Homo sapiens: one gene and its partners. The protein of the gene in region 2 purifies or fractionates together with the protein of the main gene of each other region. This does not show direct contact. Each region holds a gene or a part of one and is shown on either strand. Other genes may lie near its edges.

Region 1 (3,500 bases), on a different chromosome or scaffold from region 2:
GACAACAATAGCAACACAATAACTATTACTACAGTACATCGTCAAGGCTCAGGTCAAATGTGCCTCTCTACAAAGCACACCCTGAACTTTCTATCTGGAAGAAACCATTTTCTCCTCTGAATTCCTATTTTAACTGTCATCTCTCTCAGAACACTTCTGTCCATTTTCTATTATTCACACATATATTGTCTCCCATACCAGACTTTGAGTTAACTAAAAGCAAAATCCACTTCCGATAAGTCTCTTTATCACCTGCAGTTCCTAATATGATGCCCTGCTCATAATATCTACCCAAACTTTTGTGTGAATGGGTGGATATCTGGTCATGAGCAGTACACTTCTGCCAGCACACATAGCCTCAACCTTACCACAACATCTTCCAAAATCTTAGTAGGGCAAGGTCTGGAATGAAATTCAAAGTGTTCATCCTCTGTTTTCTTCTTTGATTCTCGCTCCTGGATTCTTTTCTCAATTTCCAAATCAAAGCCAATAGGCTCGGTGGGTGGTTTCACAGGTGGTTTCTTGGGCAAGATGGGCCCACCTTCAAGTATTCTGGGATCAAGTTCACGTGCTTTGAATTTGTATCTGTAAGGTGAAAATTTAAATAACCACAAAAAAAATTTTAATAAAATGAAAACTTCACAAACAAAGTAAGCCAACCACAAAGAATAGTAATCATTAAGATTATGCTCCCATTGACTGGACAACAGAATAAAATAAATAAAAACGAAAAACAATGGGCCAGGCACGGTGGCTCATGCCCGTAATCCCAGCACTTTGGGAAGCCAAGGTGAGCAGATAATTTGAGGTCAGGAGTTCAAGACCAGCCTGGCCAACACAGTGAAACCCCATCTCTACTAAAAATACAAAAATTAGCTGGGCGTGGTGGTGCACACCTGTAATCCCAGCTACTAGGGAGGCTGAGGCAGGAGAATCTCTTGAACCCAGGAGGCGGAGGTTGCAGTGAGCTTAGAGGCACCACTGCACTCCAGCCTGAGCAACAAGAGCGAAACTCCATCTCAAAAAAAATAAATAAATAAAAAATAATAAAAGAATAAAAGAAGAAAGAATAAATCAGACAGTCCTAACATCCCTACCACTTAAGAATTGAGGCTTCACTTCACAGAAGAAGCTCCCCCTCCTCAAAAGAAGCACAAAAAGGAATGGAAGAAGGATACAGGAAATAAACTCCAATGCTACGAATCACACTAAGTTTCCATTTCCCTCCACTAATAATAGCTGTAACAATCCCTTGGGGAGTCACAAAAGGGTGGGATCTACCTAACTTAACCTTAGAGGGCATTCCTTAATTGAAATCCTAAGTAAGTTCTTCTACTGCAACCTCTGGATTAGATTTTGTGTGTGTGTGTGTGTGTGTGTGTGTGTGTGTGTGTGTGTGTATGTGTGTATGTGCAAGACAGTCTCGCTTTGTCACCCAAGCTGGAGTATATTGGCGTGATCTTGGCTCACTGAAGCATTGACCTCCTGGGTTCAGGCTGCCCCCTAGTAGGTGGGACTACAGACGCATGCCACCATGCCCAGCTAATTTTTTTTTGGTATTTGTTGTAGAGATGGGGTTTCACCATGTTGCCCAGGCTGGTCTCAAACTCCTGGACTCAAGTGATCCTCTTGCCTCGGCCTCCCAAGGTACTGGGATTACAGGTGTGAACCACCACACCCAGCCTGGATTCAATTTTTACCAGTTTATACTCCAGAACATCTCCATATTCCCACTATAGTCCTTAAATCATATAGGCAGGGGCGTAGCCTGCAGAGCCTACTACTCAAATGCCATAAATTTTTACGGAAAGAAAAATAGCAACTGTCACCCTAACAGAACTGAAAATAAAGTAGGCAGGTTCGTGGAACTCTTCCTCAGATACTGCCAGTGGGACTTACTGTTGCAATTTCTCGAGCTCCTCAGCCTCCAGCTCTGCTGTACTTTTGCAGGTCACAGCCCGTGCACGGTGTTTGGTTTGCAGTACAGGAGTCTGTGGGTCTCTGCAAATCTTGGTCACAGAAGATTTGGAGGGTAACAGGTCTGTAAACAGAGATGACAGATGTTCATCTAGATCCGCAAGACCCAGTTTACTTGTAAGTGGTGATTCACCTATGTAGCCCAGAGAGGGATAAACCAACCACAGAGTGGTGGGCCCACAACAGTCAGCTCAGCTTACATTGGTCAAACCAACCAACATTCAGTTACTTCTCCCCTATTCCTCTTTTATTGAGGGGTATGACTAAGGTAGCCTTTGGGTAAACTCTACTGTCATCTTCTGAACTGAAAATCCATCCATGTCTGACAGGTTCCTTATCACTGCACGGGCCTAGACTGACTTTCTTTTTTTTGAGACAGGGTCTCACTCTGTTGCCCAGGCTAGAGTGCAGGGGCATAAAGGCTCACTACAAATCCAACCTCCCTGGACTCAGGTGATCTTCCCACCTCAGCCTCCCAAGCAGCTGGGATTACAGGCATGCACCACCATGCCCAGCTAATTTTTATATTCTTTGTAGAGACAGGGTTTCACTATGTTGCCCAGGCTGGTCTTGAACTACTGGGCTCAAGCAATCCACCCACCTCAGCCTCCCAAAGTGCTGGGATTATAGGCGTTAAGCCACTGTGCCTGGCCAGGCCTATACTTTCTATTGACAATGCCAATTATTTTGCTTGTTATTAACACAAAAAATTTTTGCTTATTCCAGCTTTAAGATATAAGGCCTTCCTGGCCGGTCACAGTGGCTCACGCCTGTAATCCCAGCACTTTGGGAGGCCGAGGCAGGGGGATCACGAGGTCAGGAGATCGAGACCATCCTGGCTAACACGGTGAAATCCCGTCTCTATTAAAAATACAAAAAATTAACCGGGCGTGGTGGCAGGCGCCTGTAGTCTCAGCTACTCGGGAGGCTGAGGCAGGAGAATGGCATGAACCTGGAAGGCGGAGCATGCAGTGAGCCAAGTGAGCCAAATGAGCGCCACTGCACTCTGGCCTAGGCGACAGAGCGAGACTCTGTCTCAAAAAAAAAAAAAAAAAAAAAGATATAAGGCCTTCCTAAAGACCAAGTAAAGCCTGAACAGAATGGCTCAAACCTGTAATTCTAGCAATTTAGAAGGCCAAAGCAGGAGAACTGCTTGAGGCCAGGAGCTCAAGACCAGCCTGGGCAACATAATGAGACCCTGTCTCCTAAGAAAATATAAAAATTAGGTAAGCATGGTGGCATGCACCTATATATAGTCCCAATTACTTGGAAGGCTAAGGCAGGAGGATTGCTTGAGCCCAGGAGTTGGACACTGAAGTGAGCCATGATCACGCCACTGCACTCCAGCCTGGGTGACGGAGCAAGACCCTGTCTCTAAAAAGCAAAACAAGAAGGAAAATAAATAAATAAATAAATAACAAAAGAAGACCAAGTGAAAACTCCCAATTTTATGAAATCAATATAAAAGCATCAAGACCACATCTTACAGAAAATCAAATGGAGAAAGTTAAAAACTATGTTAA
Region 2 (3,500 bases):
GGCTGAGGCAGGAGAATGGTGTGAACCCAGGAGACGGAGCTTGCAGTGAGCCGAGATCATGCCACTGCACTCTAGCCTGGGCGACAGTGCGAGACTCCGTCTCAAAAAAAAAAAAAAAGGCAATCCAGAAGAAAGCATTGTTATCACAGGAAGTCACATCTCCATGTGTGTTACTGCCCCTGAAGATCTTCCAGTGAGACAAGATGTGGAGGTGAAAGCCAGTGATGTTGATGATCCTGACCCTATGTAGGCCTAGGCTAATGTGTATATTTCTTCGTTTTTAACAAAAAGTTTGAAAAGCAAAATAATATTTAAAATTTTTCAAATTTAAGCTTATTTCTTGGAAAAAATACAAATAAATAAAATTTTAAATTAAAAAAAGAATTTCAGGCGGGGCGCAGTAACTCATGTCTGTAATCCCAGCACTTTGGGAGGCTGAGGCGGGCGGATCACGAGGTCAGGAGATCGAGACCATCCTGACTAATACGGTGAAACCCCATCTCTACTAAAAATACAAAAAATTAGCTGGGTATGATGGCACACACCTATAGTCCCAGCTACTCGGGAGGCTGAGGCAGGAGAATCACTTGAACCCAGGAGGCGGAGGTTACACTGAGCCGAGATCACGCCATTGCACTCCAGCCTGGGCGAAAGAGCGAGACTCTGTCTCAAAAACAAAAAACAAAAAACAAAAATTTTATTTTCAAGCCAGGAGACAGAGATTCATATTGCCCTGAATATATGCTCCCCGCCCAAAACAAAATTTAGATAGAAAAAAAGCATGAGGAATAAGGATATAAAGGAATAAAATATTTCTGTAAAGCTATACAATGTTTGTGTTTTCAGTTGTTATTACAAGAGTCAAAAAGTTAGCCGGGCGCAGTGGCTCACGCCTGTAATCCCAACACTTTGGGAAGCTGAGGCAGGCAGATCACGAGGTCAGGAGATCGAGACCATCCTGGCTAACATGGTGAAACCCTGTCTCTATTAAAAATACAAAAAAACAAAATTAGCCAAGTGTGGTGGAGGGCGCCTGTAGTCCCAGCTACGCGGAAGGCTGAGGCAGGAAAATGGCGGGAACCCGGGAGGCGGAGCTTGCAGTGAGCCGAGATTGTGCCACTGCACTCCAGCCTGGGCGACAGAGCGAGACTCCATCTCAAAAAAAAAAGAGAGAGAAGCTCTCGGCTTTCGGCTCGGAGGAGGCCAAGGTGCAACTTTCTTCGGTCATCCTGAATCTGGGTTCATCCGACACCAGCTGCCTCCACCATGCCACCGAAGTTCGACCCCAACGAGATCAAGGTCGTATACCTGAGGTGCACCAGAGGTGAAGTCGGTGCCACTTCTGCCCTGGCCCCCAAGATCGGCCCCCTGGGTCTGTCTCCAAAAAAGGTTGGTGATGACATTGCCAAGGCAACGGGTGACTGGAAGGGCCTGAGGATTACAGTGAAACTGACCATTGAGAACAGACAGGCCCAGATTGAGGTGGTGCCTTCTGCCTCTGCCCCGATCATCAAAGCCCTCAAGAAACCACCAAGAGACAGAAAGAAACAGAAAAACATTAAACACAATGGGAATATCACTTTTGATGAGATCGTCAACATTGCTCGACAGATGCGGCACCGATCCTTAGCCAGAGAACTCTCTGGAACCATTAAAGAGATTCCGGGGACTGCCCAGTCTATGGGCTGTAATGTTGATGGCCACCACCCTCATGACATCATAGATGACATCAACAGTGGTGCTGTGGAATGCCCAGCTAGTTAAGCACAAAGGAAAATATTTCAATAAAGGATCATTTGACAACTGGTCGAAAAAAAAAAGTTAAAAAAAGATTAAAATGTTACATCAGCCTTGGCAAGTGGGAAAAAAAATGTTAAGTTTATAAAGTAAAATAGTTATAGTAAACTAAGGTTAATTTATTATAAAAGAACTATTTTTTATAAATTTGATGTAGCCTAACTGTACCATGTTTCTAAAGTCTACAGCAGTGTACAGTAAGGCCCTAGGCCTTCACATTCACTCACCACTCACTCACTAACTCACCCAGAGCAACTTCCATTCAAACATGCTCCATTTAATGGTTAGTACCCTGTACAGGTGTGCCATTTTTTATCATTTATATTATATTTTAACTGTACCTTTTCTATGTTTAGGTATGTTTATATACACAAATGGTTACCACTGTGTTATGTTACCTACCATGCTTCAGTATAGTAACACGCCACACAGGCTTGTTGCCCAAGAACAATAGGCTATCGCAGATAGCCTAGGTGTGTAGCAGGCTAGATCATCTAGGTTTCAGTAAGTACATTCTATGATGTTTCCACAATAATGCATTTCTGATAATGTATCTGCATTGCCAAGTGACACATGACCATAACTGTTATACTGTATTTTTTGGTTTTATTTTTTATTTTCCATGAATATTTTCTCATTTTTTTTTTTGAGACCGAGTCTCGCTCTGTCGCCAGGCTGGCACAATCTCGGCTCACTGCAACCTCCACCTCCTGGGTTCTAAGCAATTCTCCTGCCTCAGCCTCCAGAGTAGCTGGGATTACAGGCACGGGCCATCACGTCTGGCTAATTTTATATTTTTAGTAGAGACAGGGTTTCAACCATATTGGCCAGGCTGGTCTGGAACTCCGGACCTCAGGTAATCTACACACCTTGGCCCCCCAAAGTGCTGGGATTACAGGCATGAGCCACTGTGCCCACTCTCCTTGAATATTTTCAACCGATGGTTGGTTGAATCTGCAGAAGCAGAACCCACGGATACAGAGGGCCAACTGTACTCCATATGCCAAAAAGCAATTTGGATTAAGATAAGTAAAAGCAGGACCATGTCTAAAGTATGCCACCATTTATGTAAAAAAGGTGGGGGAGTATAGTCTTACTTGCTTGAATACCAATAGAATTTCCCTGGAAGAACACACAGTTGCCCTGGGTAGCAGAATTGGGTGGCTGGAGGACAGAAATAGGAAGCAAACTTCACTATACAACAACCTTTGTGCCTTTGGAATTTTGAACCAAATGAAATGTTATTACCTATTCAAAATAGGCTGGGTGCGGTGCCTCACACCTATAATCCCAGCACTTTGGAAGGCAGAGGCGGGTGGATCACCTGAGGTCAGGAGTTCAAGACCAGCCTGGCCAACATGGCGAAACCCCATCTCTACTGAAAAAAATACAAAAATTAGCTGGGCATGGTGTGGGCACCTGTAATCCCAGCTACTCGGGAGGCTGAGGTAGGAGAATCGTTTGAACCTGGGAGGAGGAGGTTGCAGTGAGTGAGATTGAGCCACTGCACTCCAGCCTGGGCGATAGAGCGAGACTCTGTCTCAAAAAAAATAAAATAAAATTGAAAGAAAAGAAACAAGTGAGTTGAAGAGCACTGGACTTCCATGTCCTTGGAGTCTATCCATCCTGAGAGCCCACCTGTGGTCTGGCCTTGTGTCTGTGGCACTGTAGTGAGGGATGGAACTCTTGGGTGGGATGTGGTA
Region 3 (3,500 bases), on a different chromosome or scaffold from region 2:
GTGTGTCGTAGATCTTAGATTCCACTGTGCTGCCTGCCTGAGCCAGGTCCATGGCTGCAGTGTGACAGAGGGACAGAGTGTGAGCCCAGCACCCTCCTGGCCAACAGCCTTATTTACCAAACCAAACCAAAAGCCCAATGATGAGGACAGGAATATGGGTGACTTCCCCCCATCTCCATGAATTAAATCATACTTGTTCATTCTAAAATACTCAAATGAACCTATAATAAACAGAAAGCAAACGTCTCTCCATACTCTTACTCCCCCAGAGATAGCCTCTGTTTCTTGTTACTTTTTTATACTTCTTTAAACACATGCCCAATTTTTTTTGTTTGTTTGTTTTGTTTGAGACAGGGTCTCACTTTGTGGCCTAGGCTGGAATACAGTGGCGCAATCTGGGCTCACTGCAGCCTTGACCTCCCAGGCTCACGCGATCCTCCTACCTCAGCCTCCCAAGAAGCAGACTACAGGCGTGCATGCCACCACACCCACCTAACTTTTTGTAGACGTAGGGTTTCACCATGTTGCCCAGACTGGTCTCGAATTCCTAAGTTTGAGCGATCCATGTGCCTCGGCCTCCCAAAGTGCTGGGATTACAGGTGTGCAACACTGCACCCAGCCACATGCCCACTTTGTAAAACATAAACAGGGGCTGGGTGCAGTGGCTCACACCTGTAATCCCAGCACTTTGGGAGGCTGAGGCGGGCAGATCATGAGGTCAGGAGATTGAGACCATCCTGGCTAACATGGTGAAACCCCGTCTCTACTAAAAATACAAAAAATTAGCCGGGAGTGGTGGCAGGCACCTGTAGTCCCAGCTACTCGGGAGGCTGAGGCAGGAGAATGGAGTGAACCCGGGAGGTGGAGCTTGCAGTGAGCCGAGATCGTGCTATTGCACAACAGCCTGGGTGACGGAGCGAGACTCTGTCTCAAAAAAAAAAAAAAAAAACCATAGGGAGGAATATACTATATATATAGCATTCTGTAACCTTGTTTACTTGACAATAAAGCTGGTAACATTTACTGAGCAAGTACTATGTGGTAGTCTGTAATGAGCACTTCACATGACTTTTTCATTTAATCCTCACAAAACTTGCCCATTTTAAGATGAGGAGCAGACCCTGGGAAATTAAACAAAACCTGCCCCAAGCCACGAACTGTGGAGCGGCGGAGTTGGGATATAAACCGTGTCTGTTCGACTCACCATCTGCTAAACTTGTCTGTCCCTACCTAGTGGTTTCTTTCTTTCTTTATAATGCCTACATCATATCCCAAAGTGGGACTTAAAAAATATTTTTGTAGAGACGGAGGTCTCACTCTGTTGCCCAGGCTGGCCTTGAACTTCTGGGCTCAAGAAATCCTCTTTCCTCAGTCTCCCAAGTAGCTGGAACTACAGGTGAGCCTACCACACCTGGCTAACTAAAAAAAAAAAAAAAAAATTTTTATAGAGACAGGGTCTTGCTATGTTGCCCAGGCTGTTCTTGAACTCTTGGCCTCACACAATCCTTCTGCCTCAGACTCTCAGAGTGTTGGGATTACAGGCGTAAGCTGCTGCATCTGGCCAAAAGTAGGGCTTTACCATAACTAATTTAACTGGAACCCTAATGAGAAAGATACTAGATGTGTTACAGTTTTTGCCAGTATAAGCCAATACTGTCAGGCACGTCTTTGCTAGGAACATAAATCAGTACGCACTTGTCTATCTTCTCAGGACAGATACCTGCGTGTAGTATTACCAGGACAAAGGGAATACATAACATCAGCCTTAAGAATAATGCCAGGGTTTATAGGTAACATTAATGATGGTAATGACCCTCATTTTGGGGGTTCATCTGTATTTTCTTTGATGGGCATATATTTCTATTGAAAATAGAACAAATTTTTCCTTTTTAATATCAGGAAAAACTTTAAGTTACTAATATGTGCACATTAATTCCAACAGAGTAGAAATACAATACTATTTTTACACAGAAAAAAATGCAGCCAGACATGGTGGCTCACACCTGTAATCCCAGCACTTTGGGAGGCCAAGGCGGGTGGATCACTTGAGGTCAGGAGTCCGAGACCTGCCTGGCCAACATGGCGAAAACTTGTCTCTACTAAAAATAAAAAAATTAGCGAGGGGTGATGGTACACGCCTGTAGACGAAGCTACTCAGGAGGCTGAGGCAGAATTGCTTGAAAACCTGGGAGGTGGAGGTTGCAGTGAGCCAAGATCGCACCACTGCACTCCAGCTTGGGCAACAGAGCAAGACTCTGTCTCAAAACAAACAAACAAACAAACAAACCGACCCAAACAAAGCAAAGGAAAATACATTAAAAACTTGAGTAGTAACAATTTCTGGGTGGGAAGACTGAATGACTTTTACTTTCTTTTTTTTTTTTTTTTTTTTGAGATGAAGTCTCGCTCTGTCTCCCAGGCTGGAGTGCAGTGGTGTCATCTCGGCTCACTGCAACCTCTGCTTCCTGGGTGCAAACGATTGTCCTGCCTCAGCCTCCCAAGTAGCTGGGATTACAGGTGCGTGCCACCATGCCCAGCTAATTTTTGTATTTTTAGTAGAGACGGGGTTTCTCCATGTTGTTTAGGCTGGTCTCGAACTCCTGACCTCATGATCTGCCCGCTTCAGCCTCCCAAAGTGCTGAGATTACAGGCACGAGCCACTGCGCTTGGCCTTACTTTCTTCTTTAAGCACTTCCTGTATATTCTACAAGATCATGTGTGAAATCAGGAAACTGCCCTAGAGCAGGGTTTCTCAATCTTGACAATGTGGACATTTTGGGCCTAGTACTCTTTGTTGTGTGAGGTCGTCCTGTGCATTGCAGGGTGCTTAGCAGCATCCTGGCCTCTACCCACTAGATGCCAGAGCACCCATCCCCCAACGGTAACAACCAAAAATGTCTCCAGGCATTGCTGAATGTCCTACAGGCAGCAAAATCACCCTCCTTGTTGAGAACCACTGCCCTAGACCAGGAGTCAGCCAACTTTTTGTGCAAAAGGACCAGTACTTTAAGCTCGGCAGGCCATACAATTTCTTTCTTTTCTTTTTTTTTTTTTTTTGAGACAGAGTCTCGCTGTGTTGCCCAGGCTGGAGTGAAGTGGTGCGATCTTGGCTCACTGCAACCTCCGCCCCCCAGAGTCCAAGCGTTCTCCTGCCTCAGCCTCCCGAGTAGGTGGGATTATAGGCACCTACCACCATGCCTGGCTAATTTTTGTACTTTTAGTAGAGATGGGGTTTCATCATGTTGGCCAGGCTGGTCTCAAGCTCCTGACTTCAGGTGATCCACCCACCTCGGCCTCCCCGAGTGCTAGGATTACAGGTGTGAGCCACTGTGCCCAGCCCACGGTACGTATGATTTCTATCACAATAACTCTGTCATTAAAAAGTAGTGTGACAGGCTGGCCATGGTGGCTCATGCCTGTACTCCCAGCACTTTGGGAGGCCGAGGCAGGTAGATTTTCTGAGGTCAGGTGTTTGAGACCAGCCTGGCCAACATGGTGAA
Region 4 (3,500 bases), on a different chromosome or scaffold from region 2:
TTCGTAAACAGAACTGGAGAAAAATTTTAAAAAATCTGAGCACTAGAGATTAAATTTTAGGGATCAACATAATACTAAGAGATAAAATGTGAGAATGGACAGGTTTTCTACTCTGTTCTTGATAATGTGGAAAAAGTACAATGAGTAGCTTGTTTTGTTGCCATGTTTCTTAGAAAATAGGACCAAACACCATTGAGAAAAATTCAGCATCTGTTACAGGAAAATTAGATACTGGTCCTTAATAGCTGATAGTAGCAACTGTATCTTTATATGCTTTTTAATTTTTATTTTTATGGATATATAATAGTTGTAAATATTTACAGAGTACATGTGATATTTTGATTCAAGCACACAATGAGTAATGATCAAATCAGGGTAAATGGGATATCCATCACCTCGAACATTTATCATTTCCTTCTATTAGGAAACTTCTAATTCTATTCCTCTAGTTATTTTGAAATATACAATAAATTATTGTTAACTATAGTTGCCCTATTGTGCTACTAAACAGTAAATCTTATTCCTTCTCACTGTATTTTTGTACCCATTAACCAGCCTGTCGTTATCCACCCCTCCCCTCTCCCTATCCTAGCCTCTGGTAACCAACATTCTACTTCTATCTTCATGCGATCAACTGTATATGTTAAGCCCTGCTTCTACCCATGGGCTTCATCCAAAAATTCCTCTCACACTAGTGTGCCTTCCTAAACCATCTTTAAAACCATCATTGATTCAATAATTCATCAACTCTGGGAGCTGAAGAAAAATTCTTATACTATGAACTTAAAAAAAGATGATCTGGTAACAGCTTCTGAAAATGTGTGTGTGAGAAATAAGCTAGGAATAGTGAAATACAATTAGCATAGACAGGTTGGTAATTAGGGTCTTCATCATTAATGACAAAGAGTATGAGGAATAATACAAAGTTCAAAGAAAAAAAGAATGAGTAAGAAAACAAATTTTGCCAGTAGTTAAGTCACCCAGCAAAATGGCCCAAAGCACTAATAAGAAAACCAAGTCTTAACTAAATGATTTTATTCACTTCCTACGTCTCTGTCCTTACTCTAATCCTTATGAACCTGAATTAATCAAGTATATAATATTTTTAGATTATATTAATTAAAGGCTATGCTCTATCTCAAAAAAGCAAGACAGTACGAGAGATGTATTTTGTTTCCTTAATAAAGAAAATATCAACAAAACCAACCATATAAATTAAGCATAACAAATATTTAAAATAAAAATCAATAAGCAGTGTTATTTTATGTAAAGACTTAGCTATCACACACAAATACTTTTACACTCTCCACAGAACTATGATACATTACCGTGTTCTCTCTAGTTTGGTATAGAAGCAACCTTGAATAATTTTAACAGCTTTTAATATAGCTAGATATTCTTTGTGTGCTCTCCAACATCTATACCAGGCTTGAATCTTGCAGGCAGCTTTCACTTTACATAAATATTTCTTGGCTCTATATCTCCTCCACATAGCCTATTAAATACATAAATATAACAAGTATGCAATGAGTTGTCTCTTTTTTTTTGTAAATAAGACAAATCAGTATAAAGACAGTTAAAATAAGGTTAGTGCAGACAAAAATAAATTGCATAGTCATATCATGACTCTTTTAGACTTTGACATGTAATGAGTCTTCTGAGAACAGTGGTGCTTACTATAGTGAACACGTATTATGTGCTTTATCACACATACCTTATGGCTGGCTGCCAGCCCAGCCTAACAAAACCCTAACCAGTATTTATAAATTGTAAGACACACATGTCTGAAAAGCCCCACATTATGTAAATTATCCTCATCACCTCAATCCATTTGGAAGAAAAGAAAATGAACACATTGACCTACTGCAGGTTCTGGGGAGAAAGAGGAATTCTTCCCAATCCATATTCACTTTGGGTTCTGTGTTCAGCCTGCAGGAGAATCCTGAGAGCTCCTGTGATAGGACTGTCAGACTTTCTGATTTTGACAACCTTCTGGAAGACTAAAGGTTTACATGACAGCTACAACTTATTGAACTAAGCACTAAGAAGATTAGTCCTTAATAATCACATGGGTAGATAATACTATTATCTCTAATTTAGAGATGAGGAAATCAAGGCCTAGAGAAATTGAGTAACTTGTTGATGTCACACAGGTTAATAAGTGGCAGAGTTGTCTTACTTAATATTTATAAATATCTTATAAAATGGTTAAGATCTCTGTTTTATAAAAAAGGAAAAAAATCCAAAATTGAAATTAAGAAGGACTTGTTAGCATATAGCTGTTAAGTGACAGAGTCAAGATTTGAACCCAAGTCTATTTGACTCCAACATCCCTACAGGAAGAGGAATTAAAAGAAATTAAAGACTGTGTAAGCAAAAACTCAGTTGTATGTAAGAAAACCCAATTCCCCTTGGGAAGAGAAAGGGCTGGAGTCCTTTAAAATTAACTGTGTTTTTCTCTCTGTGGCTAGTGAGCCTTATCTCTCCCTTTCCCAGGCATTGTGAAGACTGTTTCTCTAGCTGTGCAGCTGCAAGGACACTAGACAGATAATCTCAAGTTGTAAAACATGTTGTTCCTTAAAAAGTAAGAAATAATGTAATGCATCTCTTACTTGAATAACTGTCTTTGTTTCTCTCTTCTGTAATACGCTTCCCCCTGCACAGATCTCCCCATGCCCCACGAAATGCTTAAAAGGTAGCTTGACTCTTTGTTCAGGGCTCAGTCCTCTTTGGATGTTAATCCGACTGGGTCGGTGCACATAAATAATTAAATAATTCCTCCTCAAATCCCTCGGTCTCTCTGATTCCTTAATTATCCCGCAGCACAACAAATACTATAGGCACAACGTATATTTAGATTAGGTTCTAAATTCAGTTGATAATGCAATAATTATATATGGCCAAAATTACTCTGAGATGACCTTAACTCATTCAGACTATATTGTATACGGTTTTTATGTAAATCTGCATACATTATTTATGTATATCCCCAATACCTGCCACCTCAGTCTTAATCAGTGGTAGAAGAATGGTCTCAGAACTGTTTGTTTCAATTGGCCATTTAACTGTAACAGTAAAAGACTGGTTAATGGTAACACTGCATCATAAAACCTTCAGGAGGAAAGGAGAATGTTTTGTGGACCATTTTGGTGTTTTTGTTTTTGTTTTGCTTGTGGCAGTTATAAGTTACTAGTTTTTAAAATCAGTACTTTTTAATGAAAACAAATTGACCGAAAATCTGTCACAGAATTTTGAGACCCATTAAAACAAAGTTTTAATGAGAAAATTATATATATGTATAGATATACGTGTGTGTATATATATATTTACAAATATATATATATATACACACACACACATCACACCTGAAGAACATCAAAATTTACAGACATTGACAAGAGAAGCCAACATAGCGTTAAGAGGGAAAGAAGACAGCTAAGAGATTATGGTATCAAGAAACCAAGGGTTGAGAGAAGAAACAAAGTGTGCTTAAATCCCAA

The links. The genes of interacting proteins can lie anywhere in the genome.
Region 1: the proteins of KIFC1 (region 2) and TPX2 purify together in Homo sapiens (affinity purification with western blotting, with the first as the bait; one study listed by BioGRID). This does not show direct contact.
Region 3: the proteins of KIFC1 (region 2) and RRP12 purify together in Homo sapiens (affinity purification with mass spectrometry, with the first as the bait; one large-scale study listed by BioGRID). This does not show direct contact.
Region 4: the proteins of KIFC1 (region 2) and ASPM purify together in Homo sapiens (pull-down; one study listed by IntAct). This does not show direct contact.

The regions. Positions count from the first base shown.
Region 1 is NC_000020.11:31,780,790-31,784,289, reverse strand, and holds part of TPX2 (targeting protein for Xklp2), read right to left. Parts: intron 2,042-3,500; coding exon 1,900-2,041; intron 586-1,899; coding exon 369-585; intron 1-368. UniProt on the Homo sapiens protein: Spindle assembly factor required for normal assembly of mitotic spindles. Required for normal assembly of microtubules during apoptosis. Required for chromatin and/or kinetochore dependent microtubule nucleation.
Region 2 is NC_000006.12:33,398,323-33,401,822, reverse strand, and holds part of KIFC1 (kinesin-like protein KIFC1), read right to left. Parts: coding exon 3,436-3,500; intron 1,812-3,435; exon of another isoform or gene 1,179-1,811; intron 1-1,178. UniProt on the Homo sapiens protein: Minus end-directed microtubule-dependent motor required for bipolar spindle formation. May contribute to movement of early endocytic vesicles. Regulates cilium formation and structure.
Region 3 is NC_000010.11:97,373,841-97,377,340, forward strand, and holds part of RRP12 (RRP12-like protein), read right to left. Parts: intron 55-3,500; coding exon 1-54.
Region 4 is NC_000001.11:197,094,670-197,098,169, forward strand, and holds part of ASPM (abnormal spindle-like microcephaly-associated protein), read right to left. Parts: intron 1,496-3,500; coding exon 1,329-1,495; intron 1-1,328. UniProt on the Homo sapiens protein: Involved in mitotic spindle regulation and coordination of mitotic processes.